Linked DNA regions of Homo sapiens: region 2 is linked to region 1. A link means that fine-mapping ties the variant in region 1 to the expression of a gene that starts in the linked region. Tissue or cell type: whole blood. Region 1 holds a variant in brackets; the other region holds the start of a gene. All regions are shown on one strand. Distances are from middle to middle.

What was found. PIP is the estimated chance that this variant, and not a neighbour inherited with it, causes the effect.
Region 2: ADGRD1 starts here. The variant in region 1 is fine-mapped to the expression of ADGRD1 in whole blood (TOPMed, PIP above 0.99).

The regions. Positions count from the first base shown.
Region 1 is chr12:130,977,241-130,985,418 of GRCh38, reverse strand. It overlaps ADGRD1 (adhesion G protein-coupled receptor D1), which reads right to left. Exons shown (of 25, transcript NM_198827.5): 5 at 3,356-3,535. Among named protein-coding and RNA genes, the nearest start is that of ADGRD1-AS1, 13 kb to the left of the region's middle. RefSeq lists an enhancer at 4,883-5,873. The variant CAG/G (reference allele first, on the strand shown) is at 3,300.
Region 2 is chr12:130,948,896-130,957,073 of GRCh38, reverse strand. ADGRD1 (adhesion G protein-coupled receptor D1) reads right to left here and starts at 3,167. Exons shown (of 25, transcript NM_198827.5): 1 at 2,543-3,167; 2 at 2,414-2,450. The coding sequence starts at 2,608.

The sequences.
Region 1 (8,178 bases):
GATCCAACACCAAAGGCACAATCCATGAAAGAAATAATTGACAAGCTGGACTTCCTTACAACTAAAAATGTCTGCTCTGTGAAAGACACTGTCAAGAGAATGAGAAGACAAGTCACGGATGGGGAGAAAATATTTGGAAAAGACATGATAAAGGACTATTATCCAAAATACACCCAAAAACTCTTAAAATTCAACAGTAAGAAAACAAACGACCCGCATTTTGGGAGGCTGAGATGGGAGGATCGCTTGAAGCCAGGAGTTTGAGACCAGCCTGGGCAACCAAGTAAGACCTCACCTGTACCAAAAAAAAAAAAAAACTAGTGAGACATGGTGGCACATGCCGGTAATCCCAGCTACTTGGGCAACTGAGGTAGGAGGATCACCTGAGCCCTGGAGTTAAACGCTGCAGTAAGCTGTGATTGCACCACTGTACTCCAGCCTGGATGACAGATCCTGTCAGAAAGAAAAAGAAAGAAAGAGAGAAAGAGAGAAGAGAGGAGAGAGAGAGTGAGAGAGAGAGAGAAGAGAAGAAAGAAGGAAGGAAAGAAGGAAAGGAAGGGAGCAAGGGAGGATGGAAGGCAAGAAGGAAGGAAGGAAGGGAGGGAGGAAGGGAGGGAGGGAAAGAAGGAAAAGAGAGAGGAGGGGAAGAAGAAAGGGAGGAAGGAAAAAAGAAAGAAAAACAATCCAATTTTTAAAATGGGCGAAAGATCAACCTCACCAACCCATAGAATGTACAACACCGAGAGCAAATGCTAATGTGAACTATGGACTTTGGGTGACAATGATGTGTCACTGTAGGTTCATCACATGTAACAAATGGATCATTCTGGTGGGGGAATGTCCATAGTGGGGGAAGCTGTGCCTGTGTAGAGGCGGAGGGTAATGGGAATTCTCTGAACTTTGCACTCAATTTTTCTGTGAATCTAAAACTGTTCTAAAAAATAAAATCTATTAAAATCTAACAGCAATACAGGCACTCCATGGCGCCCACCAACCCAGTCTGCAGAGGCCAGGGAGCGGGTAAGCACAGTAACGAGCTTTCCCTGAGGACGTGGCTTCTGTGCTGACTGCAGTGCGTGGAAGGGCGGCTGCCCCATCACGAGGTGGCCCCTACTCACCTCCCCCATCAGTAACATGAGAGATGAAGAGCCTGCCTTGCCAGTCTTTTTATTTCCAAAAGAAATTGGAAAATCTTAATTTTAAAATAAAATCATAACTAATGATCGTAAATCATTCCAAATATTTTTCTTACAAACTTGGCCTAGGCAATCACAATATAGGACCATAAAACCCATCTGAGGACCCAACTCAGCCCACAGGCCATTGGCATCAGCCTGTGCTCTAAGCGAGGGCGTATAATGTTAACCAACATGGGAGTGAGTTGGTAGAGGGAAGACCAACCTCCCTGCTCATTCAGGAACCTCCATCAACCAGCATTTGTGTTACTCTTCTCTCTGGCACAAGAACCACGCTCATCAACAAGAATGTTCATCAGACTTTGACTGTTGATTCCCCCACAAAGGTTCCCTTTGTTCTGCCAGCATGTGTGGTAAGCTGTCCTCCTGAGCTTGCTGCTGGAAGGAACAGGGCAGCCCTTTTAAAGGACACACATCACCTCTAGCCAGCTATGCATCTTAGATCACCCAGAATGACATCAGGGCTTCTTGCTCAAGATTGTGCAACTTTCTGATAATTTTGAGTCTCTGGAGCACGCTTGGACCCTAGGTTGGTCCAAAGTATTATTGCCCCTGAGTTTGAAAGTAAGAATAACAAACGCCTTCAATGCACAAAAGAGAGCACATTGCCAGCCAGAAGTGTTTCTAATTCTCGCCCTTTCCCTGGGTGGAAAAGCAGCCAGAGTTGAGCATACTTTACCTTTGTTCAAGGTCAAAGAACCTAATGGATGCCTGAAACCACGTTCCACCAGCCCCAAGGAGCAGAGAGATAAGCTGCTTACAATCGGACTCTGATAGCAAGTGGAACAGGAAGGTCACGGAAAAGGTTCAGATGGTTCTGTGTCAGGGGAGGGAGGCAGAGATTATTTCTGACCTTAGGGATCACAGAGGGCAAATTTGAAGTAGATGTTTGCTGAACTGCCCCACTTTACAGAGGTGGAGGTACAAGCTGGTCCGAGCACACCGAGCATCCACAGAAGAAGGCAAACACCTTCTGGGCCCACTGTGCCATCATTCCACGCTTTATGCCTAGCAGCCCACTTAGTTCTCACAGTCACCCTATGATGTGATACTGCTATTACTGCCATATTATGAATGAGGAAACTGAGGCATAGGGCAGTTAGGGAAGGTGCCCAGGTTCACACAACTACCAACGTCCAGAGGCGGGATTTGATCCAGCCTGTTTGGGTCCAGAGTTCACGCTTTTTAATAACTGGGCCATGCAGCCTCCCTTAAGAATGAGCCAGAAAATGGATTTCCCTTAAATACATCAAAGATGTTTCCTACCGGAGGAGATCATCCTAGGCTTTTGTGCTGCCCCCTCCACCTCTGCCCTTCCCTTGTTGGGCTCCAGTCCTGACTTGGCCCCCACTCCATGCCACCCTGAGTCCTTCTGTGTCCCCAGCCACCTGTTCCCCTTCTCCAGCTTCCACTTCAGACCTTCGTCAGCCTCTGCAGCCTACTGCCCCACGTCCATGTCTCAACACCCACCTGCAAACTCAGCCAATGTGCAGGGACTCCTGTTCTCTTCCCACACATCCAGGGCCCCTCCCTCCTCCAAGACCACGCACAGTCCAGTGCTTCATGCGCTCTCCCCTAGCCCCTTCCTCTGCTCCCCGATTCTTCAGCCTCTCTCTCCAAAAGCTTCTTCTCGTCATGCTTTAAACAATTTCAAGTCTATACCACTAAGAAGAAGGAAGAAGAGGAGGGGGAGGAAGAGAAAGAGGAAGAGACAAAGACTGTGAGAGAAAAAGGAGGCAGATGAGGAGGAAGAGGGAAAATGAGAAGGAAAAGAAGGAGAAATGTAACCACTGCTTGCACTTTGCACACCATATCTTCAGCTTAATGTCCTGGAAACCGTGAGGTAAGTACTGTCAATATCATCTGCACATCACAGGTGTGATCACTGAGGTCAGTGTGGTCAGGTAACCTACAGCAGGCACACAGTGCACGGGCAGACGGAGCCCAGGCTCTGCACCAACCAAAGGCGGCTTACCAAGGGCACCTCCTTGCCTCTCCCCATGCACCTCCCCAACAACCCTTAAAGGAAAGGAGCTCGGGTGCCAGGAGGCAGCAGCATCCCTGGGCTCCTTGGGCTGCGTTGGGCTTCTCAGCGTCCATTCT[CAG/G]AGAAGACTCCACTCCTCCAGGCAGAGCCTCCCGGGACCGATGCTGTCACTCACCTGGGGGGCTGAAGGAGGCCTCCCATGTCATGGAATTGTCCCGCGTATACAGCTCCACAGAGCCTCTGCCACCGCTGGAGCAGACTTTGAACCCATTGGAGATGACCTGTCCCCCATACGCAGAAGGGATTGGTCTAGACTGTTCTCCTTGTGTCTTCCAGAAAAAAGAAAACGTGACCCCTGAGGAAAGTCACAAGATCAGTTATTCACAGAGAGCAGGGGACTTGACTTCTCGCAAGCACATGGTTCTCTTTGCTTTTTATTTTTCATTCGAAAAGCATTTTGTCCCCATTCTAAAGGCAGTGTATGTTCAGTTCAGAAAATCCAGACAGTGATATTTGCTCATGTTTATTAAGGGCTCACACAGTGCCAGGCACTTTTCTAGGAGTTTGAAATGAATTCTCGCCTTTTAAAAAGTACAAAAATCCTGCTTCATCCCCACTATACAGATGAAGGAACTGAGGCTCATTCACTCAAGGTCACCAGTGACTGATGAAGATCGCTGCAGCCCCAGGCAGTTCCCCGCCCCCACTCCCCGGGATCATGCAAATGTGAAGACCTACACCCTCCAGGTTTCTCTCCTATTCCTCCAGAAATGTGGTTAGGGCGGCTCCTTCCTAAGCCTCTTCTATAAATAGATTTTACAAAGACACGAACCATCTCAGGCACACTGGTTTATAAACAACATTTCTATAAAGTTTACTCCACCGTGAACTTCCTCCGATGTCCATAAATACACTGTCACGTTGTCACTTTTATGTCTGCACAGCGGCGCATTCTAAACAAGCACCACAGTCTTTTTTTTAAACAGCAATCCCCTGTTGCTGGATCTTAAGGTTTTCTTCCACTTTTTGAAGAAATTTTCAAACAGAACTTGAAGCAAATTCTTTTGCATATCTCAGACTATATGCCTTTAGGATACATTCCCAAGAGGGCATTTCTTGCCAAAGGGAAGCACACTTTTAAGGTTGTTGATATCTTCAATTGTTCATTTCCCGCAGTTGGATACAGAGGGGGCAGCAGCTGAAACCTTTTTCAAGACTCTAGTCTGCACATTCGTGGTAAGTCCTGACCCCAGGCCCACGCTGCGGGGGAGGAGGGATTGCACCTGGACTAAATGGTCTGAGCGACGCATGTTAGCATGAATGAGCTGGCTCATTAGTTCATGTTGCCTCCGCCACCAGCAGCAGATAGGACATACCTCAAATGTGTTGTGGCAGTATATTACAGTAAATTATGACAATTAGATATTGTACCTTTGTGGGTGCAAAGTCCTACTGTGATCAATGTAAACATGGAAAAACAATGTAATTTTTATGATCCTCATGTGGGATTTCTCCATGTTTTTACTATAAGAGGAACTGCAGGCCGGGCGCGGTGGCTCACGCCTGTAATCCCAGCACTTTGGGAGGCCGAGGCAAGTGGATCACCTGAGGTCAGGAGTTTGAGACCAGCCTGGCCAGCATAGTGAAATGCCGTCTCTACTAAAAATATAAAAATTGGCCGGGTGTGGTGGCATGCACCTGTAGTCCCAGCTACTCAGGAGGCTGAGGCAGGAGAATTGTTTGAACCACGGAGGCAGAGGTTGCAGTGAGCCGAGACCACGCCATTGCACTCCAGCCTGGGCAACAGAGCAAGACTCTGTCTCAAAAAAAAGAGGGTCCAGGCATGGTGGCTCACGCCTGTAATCCCAGCACTTAGGGAGGCCGAGGCGGGTGGATCATGAGGTCAGGAGATCGAGACCATCTTTACTAACATGGTGAAACCCCGTCTCTACTAAAAATACAAAAAATTAGCCAGGCGTGGTGGCAGGTGCCTGTCGTCCCAGCTGCTCAGGAGGCTGAGGCAGGAGAATGGCGTGAACCCGGGAGGCAGAGCTTGCAGTGAGCCGAGATTGTGCCACTGCACTCCAGCCTGGGCGACAGAGCGAGACTCCGTCTCAAAAAAAAAAAAAGAGGAACCGCAAAAGCCCAGCTCCTGAGCATGCCCCGCACCCACCCCGACCGCTGTTCTGCACTCACACCCACTGGTCTGGGGGCCGGGCTCTCTGCTGAAGGGGAAGTCAGGGCAGGGCCTGGCTGGAGGCTCTGTGGAGCTTGGGCCTCTCTGGCGTTGCATTTTGGAGCTCTGGTTGTCTCTATTCCACTTCTCTGCCTCCAGTAGCATCTGCCCACCTGGCCCTTCTTTGTGTGTAAACTCCAGTGTGTGTGTGTGTGTGTGTGTGTGTGTGTGTGTGTGTGTGTGTGAGACACTAGCTGCCTGTCTGGATTCTGCCCCTGACAGCTGGAAATACATCCAGCTGCCTCACCCCCGCCAAGCCTGGCCCAGGCACATGGGTAAGAGGGTTCAGTGGTGCTGAGAGAGAACACGTGCCCAGAACTGGTCCAAAGAGGCCCATGATGGGACGGTGGGTGCAGGGGAGAGGCAGAAGGATATTTGCCCTGGGCTTTATTTCTATAAATGGTGCCAAATTTAGACTTTAGACCTTACCTTCACATGAGGTTATGGACACAGTCTTAGAGAGTCACTGAATTCAAAGAAGACATTTGTCATTCGTGTATAAGGCAGTGTCTCATTGCCCACCATGCTTTCTGTGATGCCTTATGAATTAACATATCTGTTAGAAGTCCTTCAAATGTCTTGTGACAATATATCAAGACAACTATACCTTTGTGAGTTCAAAGCCCTCGCAGGATTCAGGAAAAACACAGCATACATTTTATAACCCTGGTATGGAATTTCCCCATTTTATTTTTTAAGAGAAGAAGAACCTCAAAAAAATTGGAAGAGGCCTGGACCTTTCTGGACCTCTGAGAGGCTACGGGGTACAACTCCAAGCCCTGCGGCATCTGTCCTTAGGGCTCCTGGGAAAGAAAACAGCCTTCCCGAGTGCCCAGTAATGTGGGTTACCGCAAAAGGGTGCGACTGTGGGGGTTGCACAGAGGCCTGGGGCAGCTGACGCTGGTGTCCCCAGACCTGGCTGGCACCACCCACACCCACCTCATGAACGGGCTTCCTGCAACACCTGCCTTGGGCGCTGAGGGGTACAGAAGCCAGGACAACCCCCCGAGCCTCCCGCCACTTCCCTGCCTTGGGCGCTGAGGGGTACAGAAGCCAGGACAAACCCCCAAGCCTCCCGCCACTTCCCTGCACACTCAGAAACAACCCGTTTCACAAGGAAGTCAGCACAGTGCGTTGTGAAATTTTTGTTATGAAACAAATTCCCAGTAGGATTCATGGAAGTTAATTTTTTCCAAAAACTTTGCTGCATTTTAAAATTTCTTTCACTCAATTCAAAATGAGCCTGTCTTGGCCAAATGTCTTTCTGTTCAGGAAGAAAAATAAAAATAAAAAAATTCCATGTGGTGTTAGGTAAGGGTAGATCGAAGGCCATCCATGGTGCCGGTAACCAAGCTTTTCATTTAGTTAACTCAACGCACAAAACAATGACTTCTACCTGAGCAACAGCTTATATTTAAGTATCAATTCACGTCTTCATAGAGTCATAACAAATTCACAATGTGCCTTCCATATTAGCCTTTTAAGGAACTTTGCCTCATGGAGTTGGGCCATCAATACAACAAGGAAAAATCTGAAGGAAAAAGAAACAAGCACAATATTGACAAACTAATTTGATAATTTTTTCTTGTTATAAGCACTGAATCCTAAAACATCCAAAAAATAAAATGAGGAAAGATCTTTTTTGACAAGACAAAAAAAGGAAAAATAAAAATCTAGGAGTCATAAGAAAAGACTAATAAATTTAAGTGCATAAATATAATATTCTGCAAGGCAAAAAAAATTACCGTAACAAACTCAAAGACAGACAACCATCCAGGGAAAGAATATTTGTCACAGATTTACTAGATGAGAAGTTAATTCCCTTCATATGTAGAGACCACGGCATAAGACAAAGGATGATTTCTAGCAGGTGAGGAGAACTTATATGGGCTGAGGTTAAATCCTCCCAACAACCTGTGAACTAGGGGTCATTACTGTCCCCATTTCACAGGGGAGAAAACTGAAGCACAGGGAGGTGCGGTAACTTGCCCAAGGCCACACAGCTGGTCTGGGACGAGTCAGGATTTGAACCCAGGCAGCCTGGATCTGGAGTCTGCGTTTGTAATCACTGTGCTGTGGCTCCCGCCCTTCCCTTGGAGATCATGCATGCAGCTGCCCTTCCCAGGCCCACAGACTCAGCACCCTGCAAGAGCATGATCAACACATGCCAACAAAGCAGCGGCCCAGGAGGGCGCGAGGTTATACAGGCATGCGGGCCCGCCTGGCGTCTGTACCCACACCCCAGTCACCACAGACCACACAGCTGAAGGCTGACTCGGGCTGGGCCTATCAGAATCACCAGGACTGACCCAGGCATGGGCAGGCTCACCTGACAAAACCAGAACTTGGAGCTTCTGAGCGGATGCTGCTCCCACACCAGGAAAGCAGCCTTGAGAACAGAGCTGGAGCAAGGCAGGGACAGGGTCTGATGGCCGTTCTGGCACCCGGACCAGCCTGTGGCCCACCACGTTTCCCAAAGAGCCACGAGGATGCGCGTCCCATACGCTTTCACGCAAGACTCAGAGCCCGTTTCCCGGCTGCCTCATGGGCCCTGTGCCTGGTGTGGCCAGGAGGAGACACTCGTTTGCATATCGAGCCTTTAAAATTCTCACTCCACACCCCCACCCCAAAGCCCCACTCTAATCGCTTCCTGAAATGACTGGGGCTGTAGGACACCCACTTTCCCCATGGGAATAAGAAATTCTTCCCTTTCCCCTTTCCCTGCTCCTCTAACAAAGCCACACGCAGGCCATCCTGGGGAA
Region 2 (8,178 bases), 28 kb after region 1:
CATGTGTGGATGCATGTGGACACATGTTGATGCATGCAGGTGTGTGCATATGTGTGGATGCTTTTGCATGTGTATGCATGTGTGTCAACATGTCTGATGTGTATGGATGTGAGTGGTGTGTGGACATGTGATGTGTGTTGGCACATGTGGCCATATGTTGACACATGTAGACATCTGGTGTGTGTGTGTATGCATATGTGTCACCATGTGTGGATGTGTGTGATTTGTGTTGGTGCATGTGGGCATATGTTGACACATGTAGACATGTAGCATGGGGGGGCATGTGGACACATGTGCATGTGTGAGAATGCGTGTGGGCTCTGTATCATAAGCAGAAGTCCGGGGAGAACCCGCACAGCTTTTCTCCAACACTGAGCAGCAGTGAGGGCCATGCTGGGGCCTCGGGGGCCACCTGCCTGCTGCAGGAGCCGGGTGCACAGCTCTGCCTGACCGCCCTGCAGTTCGAGGGGCTACCCCTCTCCTCCTCTCAGTCCTCTCCCCTACTGGAGCCCAGCCCAAGCCATGAGGCCTGCATTCACGAGAAGCAAGGTGTCCAAGGTGGACACGTCCTCTCTTTAACGCAGCGCTGGGCATGTTTATTCGTTCCCAAGCCACAGGAGCCCTTGTTTCATTCAGCGATTTGGCTGAGGAGAGGGGAATGTGTGGAAACTCACAGCTTCCACACCTTTTTAAAAGGAGCTCCCTATGCATGTGGACGAAACAGAAGTGGCAGCGTCCCCACCCCCGAGTTGGTGAATGGAGGTGGTGGCGAGGCGACGATGCCTGGAACATCCTGGCATGGGGCTGCCGGGCAGCCGGAAAGGAGACAGAGGCTGAGGGCACAGCCCCTGGCCCTAGACCCCAGCAGGCTCCTGGTGCTCCATCCAGGAAAGGGGCTCTCCCTGGAGGCCTGGGTATCGCCCTGGGATCTGCCCACAGTGCTGGCCTGAGTCCATTTGTGGTTGATCATTAAAGGCTGGTTCCCAGCCAGGCCCAGTGGCTCACATCTGTAATCCCAACACTTTGGGAGGCCGAGGTGGTTGGATCACCCGAGGTCAGGAGATCGAGACCAGCCTGGCCAACATGGCAAAACCTTGTGTCTACTAAAAATACAAAAATTAGCCAGGCGTGGTGGCATGGGCCTGTAATCCCAGCTGCTTGGAAGGCTGAGGCACAAGAATCGCTTGAACCCGGGAGGCAGAGGTAGCAGAGAGCCGAGACTGAGATCTCACCACTCAACTCCAGCCTGGGTGACAGAGTGAGACTTTGTCTCAAAAAATAAAAACAAAAATAATTTTTTTAAAAAGGCTGATTTCCCATCAGAGACAGGCAGGGCCATACAATAGCGCTCGGGGGGGTGCCCAGCCAAGCTCTGGTGGGGCGGGGGCAGAGGCTGTGCTCACAACAGGCTTCCCAGCAGGGGTTCAGGCACTAGCAGGGTCTCCTCCCCACCTCCTGCAACTTCCAGCAGGGAGCAACAGCCCAGTGACTGCCTGCTGCTCCCAGAAAGCCTCGTCTTCCCATCCCTGCCCCTGGCTGACCAGAACGTGTGCCCACACTCTTAACAGCGAAGGGTGTGTGCCTCCCTGTCTTCCCGAGAGAAGCCCCGTCCTGATGCTTCCTGGTTGGGTGTCACAATGGCCAATGGAATGTGGCTCTGGGGCTGGAGCAAGGGTGGCCCTCTATCCCGAGTCCCACTCATCGGCTGCTCCAGGCTAAGCTGGTCAGCACTCTGAGGCTGGAGGTCCCGAGACCCTGCTATGGGCCAGAGCTCCAACTCCCCACCAGTGAATCTGCCCTGAAGACATGAGATGGGTGTGGTGGCTCACATCTGTAATCCCAGCACTCTGGGAGGCCAAGGCGGGCGGATCACCTGAAATCAGGAGTTCGAGACCAGCCTGGCCAACATAGTGAAACCCTGTCTCTACTAAAAATACAAAAAAAAAAAAAGCTGGGTGTAGTGGTGCACACCTGTGATCCCAGCTACTCAGGTGGCTGAGGCAGGAGAATTGCTTGAACCCGGGAGGCAGAGGTTGCGGCCACTGCACTCCAGCCTGGGCAACAGAGCAAGACTCCATCTCAAAAAGAAAAAAAGGAAGAAAGGAAGAAAGAGAGAAAGAGAGAAAGAAAGAGGCAGAAGGCATTCAAATGAAGATCATATTTCCTTAATCACAATGTTTCATATGACCCAGCTCAAGGGGCCCAGAACCACTTCTCCATCCACCGCTCAGCCGGTGAGGGGTAGCAGAGCTGCCCAGGGTCACAGTGTGTGGTGAGGCAGTGAGGTCGGGGACCAGGAGCCCAACAAGGGCCATTCGCTGATGCCTCAGAGATGAACAAGTGGGCTGTTCCTGAGATACCTGCACTAGGCAGGGGGAGAGCGGTGCTCAGAGTGAGAAGGAAACACTCTTACCTGGATGGTCCTGCGATCTGGAGTAGACGCCACGCACCTGCGCACAAAAGACCACAGTGTGAGACACACTCAGGGAAAGCCTCCGGAGAAACCAAGCCTGTCGCCATCCTGGCCACTTGGGGACATTACCTGAAAGTTGTAATAAAATAGCAGCAGCCAGGAGTACCAGCAGCACAGCCGCAGCAGCTTTTCCATGGCTCTCTCGGAGGTCAAAGCTCGGAGCCAAGTGAAATTCCTGAGGGTCTGTGAGAACGGGACCTCTTAACCTTCACTTCCTTGGAAAAGGGACATTTTCACAGGTTCCAGGGGAGAAAATTTCTGTCTCCTTAAAGTTTGTGAAACACAGCTGTCTTGGAGACCTAATGGGTGTTTCTTCCTCGTCTCAAAACTTGAGATTCTTCAGTGATCAATAAACACGTTGCGATGACCAGAGCAGCTGTGGAATGCAGGGAGGAGAAACCCAAACCCGACTCGCAGTCCTGGGAAAGCAATCCCAGGTCACCACTGTGACCGCGACCTGCGCCCGGGGACGGGAGGCTGTTTGTCCTGCGGTATTTTCTTTTTATTTCAAGAGCCTCCGTTTGTCTCAGTCAGGTTTGGAGCTTCCCTTTTCTCTGAAGAAGGTTTTGTGCGTGGTTTTCCCCTGGAGCGCCCGCCTGCTCCTCGGGCTTGTCCTGCGGCCGCTCTCGAGCTCCTTCTGGTCTGGCTCAAGTTCACACCTCCGTCCTGCTCTCTGGGTGGAGGGGGAGTGAGTGATGTAAGTCTCTCTCCTCAAACTTTGTTCTGTTCTCCTTTTCTATTTATATCCCCACTGCTGTGTCCTTCCTGGGTCCTAACTCCAGCCTCTTAACAACAGCTGAAATATTTCCAGGATCTCAGGCTCAGAATCAAACCAAACAGACATGGTGTGTGGTGTGTGTGCGTGTGCGTGTGTGTGTTACTGATGCCTTCTGGTCAGCACCTTCAAAGTCGGCATAAATATTAATAAATACAAAATGCAAAACAAACCATAAACTCTGTTTAGATCTGAGTCTTGTTTGCCCCCAAAAGAGAATGAAGTTGACAGAGGGATGGAAAAGAGAAAGCAGCACACCCACTGTGCCCTCCATATTAAGCGCTGACCACATTTTTCTCTCTAATCCTTTCGGACGTCAGTGAAAGCTACGGAATTAATTACAAGGTACGCTGCGCAATTACACCATCCCACATATACCCCCACCCCAGCACCAGGAGGATGTTCTCAATGGGATAGAAAAGAGTCAGCCCCTTCGCCAGACATGCCTCAGTTTACCCAAGACCAAAGTTTATCCGATCTACTCCAAATACACGTGGACACACAGAGACACACACCCTAGAATTGCAGTCACAGCTATATTTGCTATGTGATTTAAGTAATATTTACCGCTTCATACTTTCTCCAACATTCACCAGCTGTGCTCCTAGGCAAATTACTTGATCTCTCTTAGTTTTCGAATTCCTCATCCACAAAATGGGGGTTAATAGTTCCTCCTCCTCAGGGCTGTAACAATAAATTAGAGGACAGATCCAAGGCTCTTCAGGCAGTACTTGGAAAATATGTGGCACTCAGTAAATGCTGCTATTTTCTATTAAGAAAAATTATCACTCAGTAAATGTTAGCTATGATTATTATTAGCAAGTATAACATAACACCCAGTAAATGTTAGCTGATACAGTTATCTCAATTGTCCTGACTTTAAATGGGAATTAAGAATCCTGAATCCAACATACTTCCTAAAGAGGATAAGAAAATGACTTCCAATCTCTGTGGGACAGAAAAAAAGAAAGTGCTGTCAAAACGTTAGGTGATTATTTTTAACTTGTGCCTGCAGCCTACAACCGCTCAGATCCTCTGATAGCCTGAGCCTCTCTGTGGAGCTGGAGAAGGGTTCCAGAGAGTTCCATCTCCTAGCAATGGAGAAACTGTGAACTCCAAAGGCCGGGGGCTGTCTGTAATAACGACCTTTATCCTGTTGCTCAGGCTGGTCGGCTTCAGGGAAAACTAATTTACAACCTTTATCTCTGCCATTTCATCAGCTCTCCAGTCCCCCACTGCCTCTCGCTGGAAGAGGTGAAGGGAGGGACAGGCAGCTGCAGGTTTTTCTCAGCTCCAGTTTTAACCTGGAAGAATTCAACAGATTGCTGAATATGCGGACCTTTCCCATCTCCATGACCGAACAAAGCCAGCATGGTTTCTTTTCATCATAAAATTGTCATCAGATAATGGGAGACACCCCGATTCAATGACTGTAATAAAAACTAGATAGCAAAGCAATTCAGCAGAGCTTGCCCTGCAGGCATCTGCACTCATCCTCAGACTCACTCTGACTCTCCATCCCGGACTACAGTCTCGTGCCTCATGCTATTTGCCTGCGTCCTGTCTCAGGCCTTGTTCAGAGGCCCAGATGAAGAGCCCGCCTCCATGTAAAGCAGCGTGTCCTGAAGCCTGGAGATTTGAGACAGGGCCTTGAGTGGTCCATGGGCCTGGAACCAAGCAACTCTGATGTCTCTGAGCATCTCATTCCATCACCCAAACGTCGGGGTGTTCGGCACCCAAACATCACCTTGACAGCAGGTCTCCCTCCCCCTAAAGCCCTCCCCTGCTGTATTTTCTCGATCCCACTAACCACGATCCAATGTACTTCATATCTTAGACGTTTATTTCATTTATTGTCAGTCTCTCCCCACCGAGGCGTAGGCCCCATGAGAGCAGAGACCTTCTTTCTGCCTGTTCGCTCTGCACCCCAGCCCCGAGAACAGGGCTTGGTACTTGGTGAGCACTCAGCGTTTGTCACCAAACCCAGCCTGGCTCTGCCCTCCCGCAGCAAAGCCAAACATGGACGTCGGGATTGCAGTGAGAGGAAGTGAGGCATTTAGAGCAGGGCACCAGGCGAGCAGAACCTGGCAGCTCACACTTCAGACCTGAACTCCCCGATGGCTGATGGGGGAGGGTTTTTCAAGGTGGAGAGGCAGAGGTTACAGGCTAAGTCCCACATGAATAATACCTGGAGGCTGCACATTGGTTTGACCTAAAAAGCTAGGACATCTTGAACTGGGGGCCCACAGGTCATATAGGTAGTAGATTCAGAGGTTTTCTGATTTGTGATTGGTTAAGAAGGCAAGGCTTTGTCAAAAAATTTGAGATCAGCAAAAAAGAATGTTAGCTCTGGCCTGTGGGCATGACCTCCTCCAGGCCCCTCAGGAAGAAATTTAGAACAAAGAACAGTGGTGGGCCCGGAGGGGTGGATCCCAACACTTTGGGAGGCTGAGGCAGGTGGATCACCTGAGGTCAGGGGTTCGAGACCAGCCTGGCCAACATGGCGAAACCCCGTCTCTACTAAAAATACAAAAATTAGCCGGGTGTGGTGGTGCATACCTGTACTCAGGAGGATACTTGGGAGGCTGAGGCAAGAGAATCGCTTGAACCCAGGAGGCGGAGGTTGCAGTGAGCTGAGATTGAGCCACTGCACTCCAGCCTGGGCAACAGAGTGAGACTCTGTCTCAAAAAACAAAGAACAAAGAACGGTGGTGGAGTTCAGCTCTCCGCTCCCCCATATCAGAGGTCTGTAAGTCAACAGATCCATTTGGTGGGGGTCCAGGTTCTGAAAAACAACTCCGGGTCGTTTGTTACGATGTTGTCTTTAGTTTCTACAGGGAAGCAATGAATTCCTGACTCTAACTCTCTTGACTATTGTTTCTCGCCACTATTAACTTCTTGCTTCCCAAGTTGCTCATGTATTTCTCAGGGCTAGCTAGGTGGCTGGAATTCCCCTTCAAGGAACCCAAGATTTTATTGTATTTATTTATTTATTTTGAGATGGAGTCTCATTCTGTTGCCCAGGCTAGAGGGCAGTGGCACGATCTCAGCCCACCACAACCTCACTGAGCTCCCAGGTTCAAGCAATTCTCCTGCCTCAGCCTCCTGAGTAGCCAGGATTACAGGCACCCGCCACCACACCCGGCTAATTTTTTTGTATTTTTAGTAGAGGCGGAGTTTCACCATGTTGGCCAGGCTGGTCTCGAACTCCTGACCTCGTGATCCGCCCACCTCAGCCTCCCAAAGTGCTGGGATTACAGGTGTGAGCCACCGCGCCCGGCCCGATTTTCTTTTTTCTATGCTTGGGTGGGGAGTGCCCGGCAGGCAGCCTCACATTCAACATTCAAGTCATAGTTTTGGGCCACATGCATGTGTACTTTACTTAAAGAATGAAAAACATTGTTACGCTTTGGTAAAATATTTCAGACTTTACTGGGAGGATGCTAATTAAACATTAAAAATGAGACCTTACATTGTGATTAGGCTCCACTCAAAATTTTACAAGGACATAAAGTGTGACGCCAGCTACCAATGGGAACGTAACTGGATTATTTGCAAAGCTGATGCCCTGCGCACAACAGAGCATGTTTCCTGGTGCTGAGCAGCTCAGATGTCCCAGGAGGACAGATCGGGCCTGAACAAAGAATTCTGTGGAGTGGCCCAAATGCTGAGGGAGAGCTGGACAAGCTGTGAGCACAGGAGTTCCTGATGCCTGATTCACACCAATCCAAGGTGCGCCTCCCTCCAGCTCAGACCCTCCCATACGCCGGCATATTTGTGAGAGGCAGCAAGAGTTGTGTGTCCATCACGTTTACTCCTGTGTAGATAAGCAAGGCGGAGCAGCAGTTCGTAAGCAGTGTGCTAGGAGGGGTGTGCAGCACACAACGTACATGGAAATGAACGGTGTTAGAAGCCTGGGGGCGAATTCACTGTGAAAGTCACACGAAGGAGTTCAAGAATTCTTTCTCTGAGTGGTTAAGGGATGGGACATTCTGGAAAGAAGCTATGGAATGGGCTAAAGCTCCGATGCAGCATGCCATGGACCATGGGCGTGTGTTGTTTCTACCAGCCCAGCCTCCCCTCCGGCTCCTGTCGGCTTTCCTTTTGAAGGACGTTTCTTCCACCGACCCGTGAGCTCAGACGGGACTGTCAGAAGCTGCAGGTGTTGCGGGGGAGTTGTGACCCAGTGGGAACACTTGCAGCTCCTCCATACCACAGGCACTGTGAATGGCCCAAAGGTGTACATGTGACCCACTCAGAACCAATCAGTGTCTTCCCCGGGATCAATAGATTGACCATGGGAGAGAAAAGACTCCCTCCGCCACTGCAGTTGCTAATCCAGAATGGTCTTCAATCAAGGCTGGTGATGCCCATTTTTCCCACAACAAAGAAAAGAATTACACAGAGCTGAAGATAACAAGCAAACATAGAGACTCTAGCCGCCTAGCCTTGGAGAGGGTCAAGAGAAAACCTGATGCTGTCAGCTGAGCCCTTGGATCCTACAAGACCTAAAGCCAGCATTCCCTGACAGGCACCGAGAAATTTATGTTAGGCTCAAGCAAGTTTGAGCTTGGTTTCTGTCCCTGGTCATTAAGAGTCCTGGTCAGTGACACAGATTTGAGAAACCACAATTAATTATATATTCAATGAAGAGTAGGCACAAGTAGGGAAAGTGGCAGGGGCTGAGGCTGGAGAGAGTCAACAACATAATCAAGAGGGCCTGTGTACGGGGCCCCTTTCATTCACCTCTTTAAATCTTCTCTGCCCTACTTCTTATCCACCTACCAGTAGGATGATCAGCTTCACACTGGCTTCCACCAGCGTTGCTCCTGATGGCGATGCCCTCAGAAGCCAGAGCATGCTCCACCCTGGGGTCTCTGACTCAGCAGATGGGAGGCCCGGGAAAGCCCTGCAGCCTCAGGCATAAGCA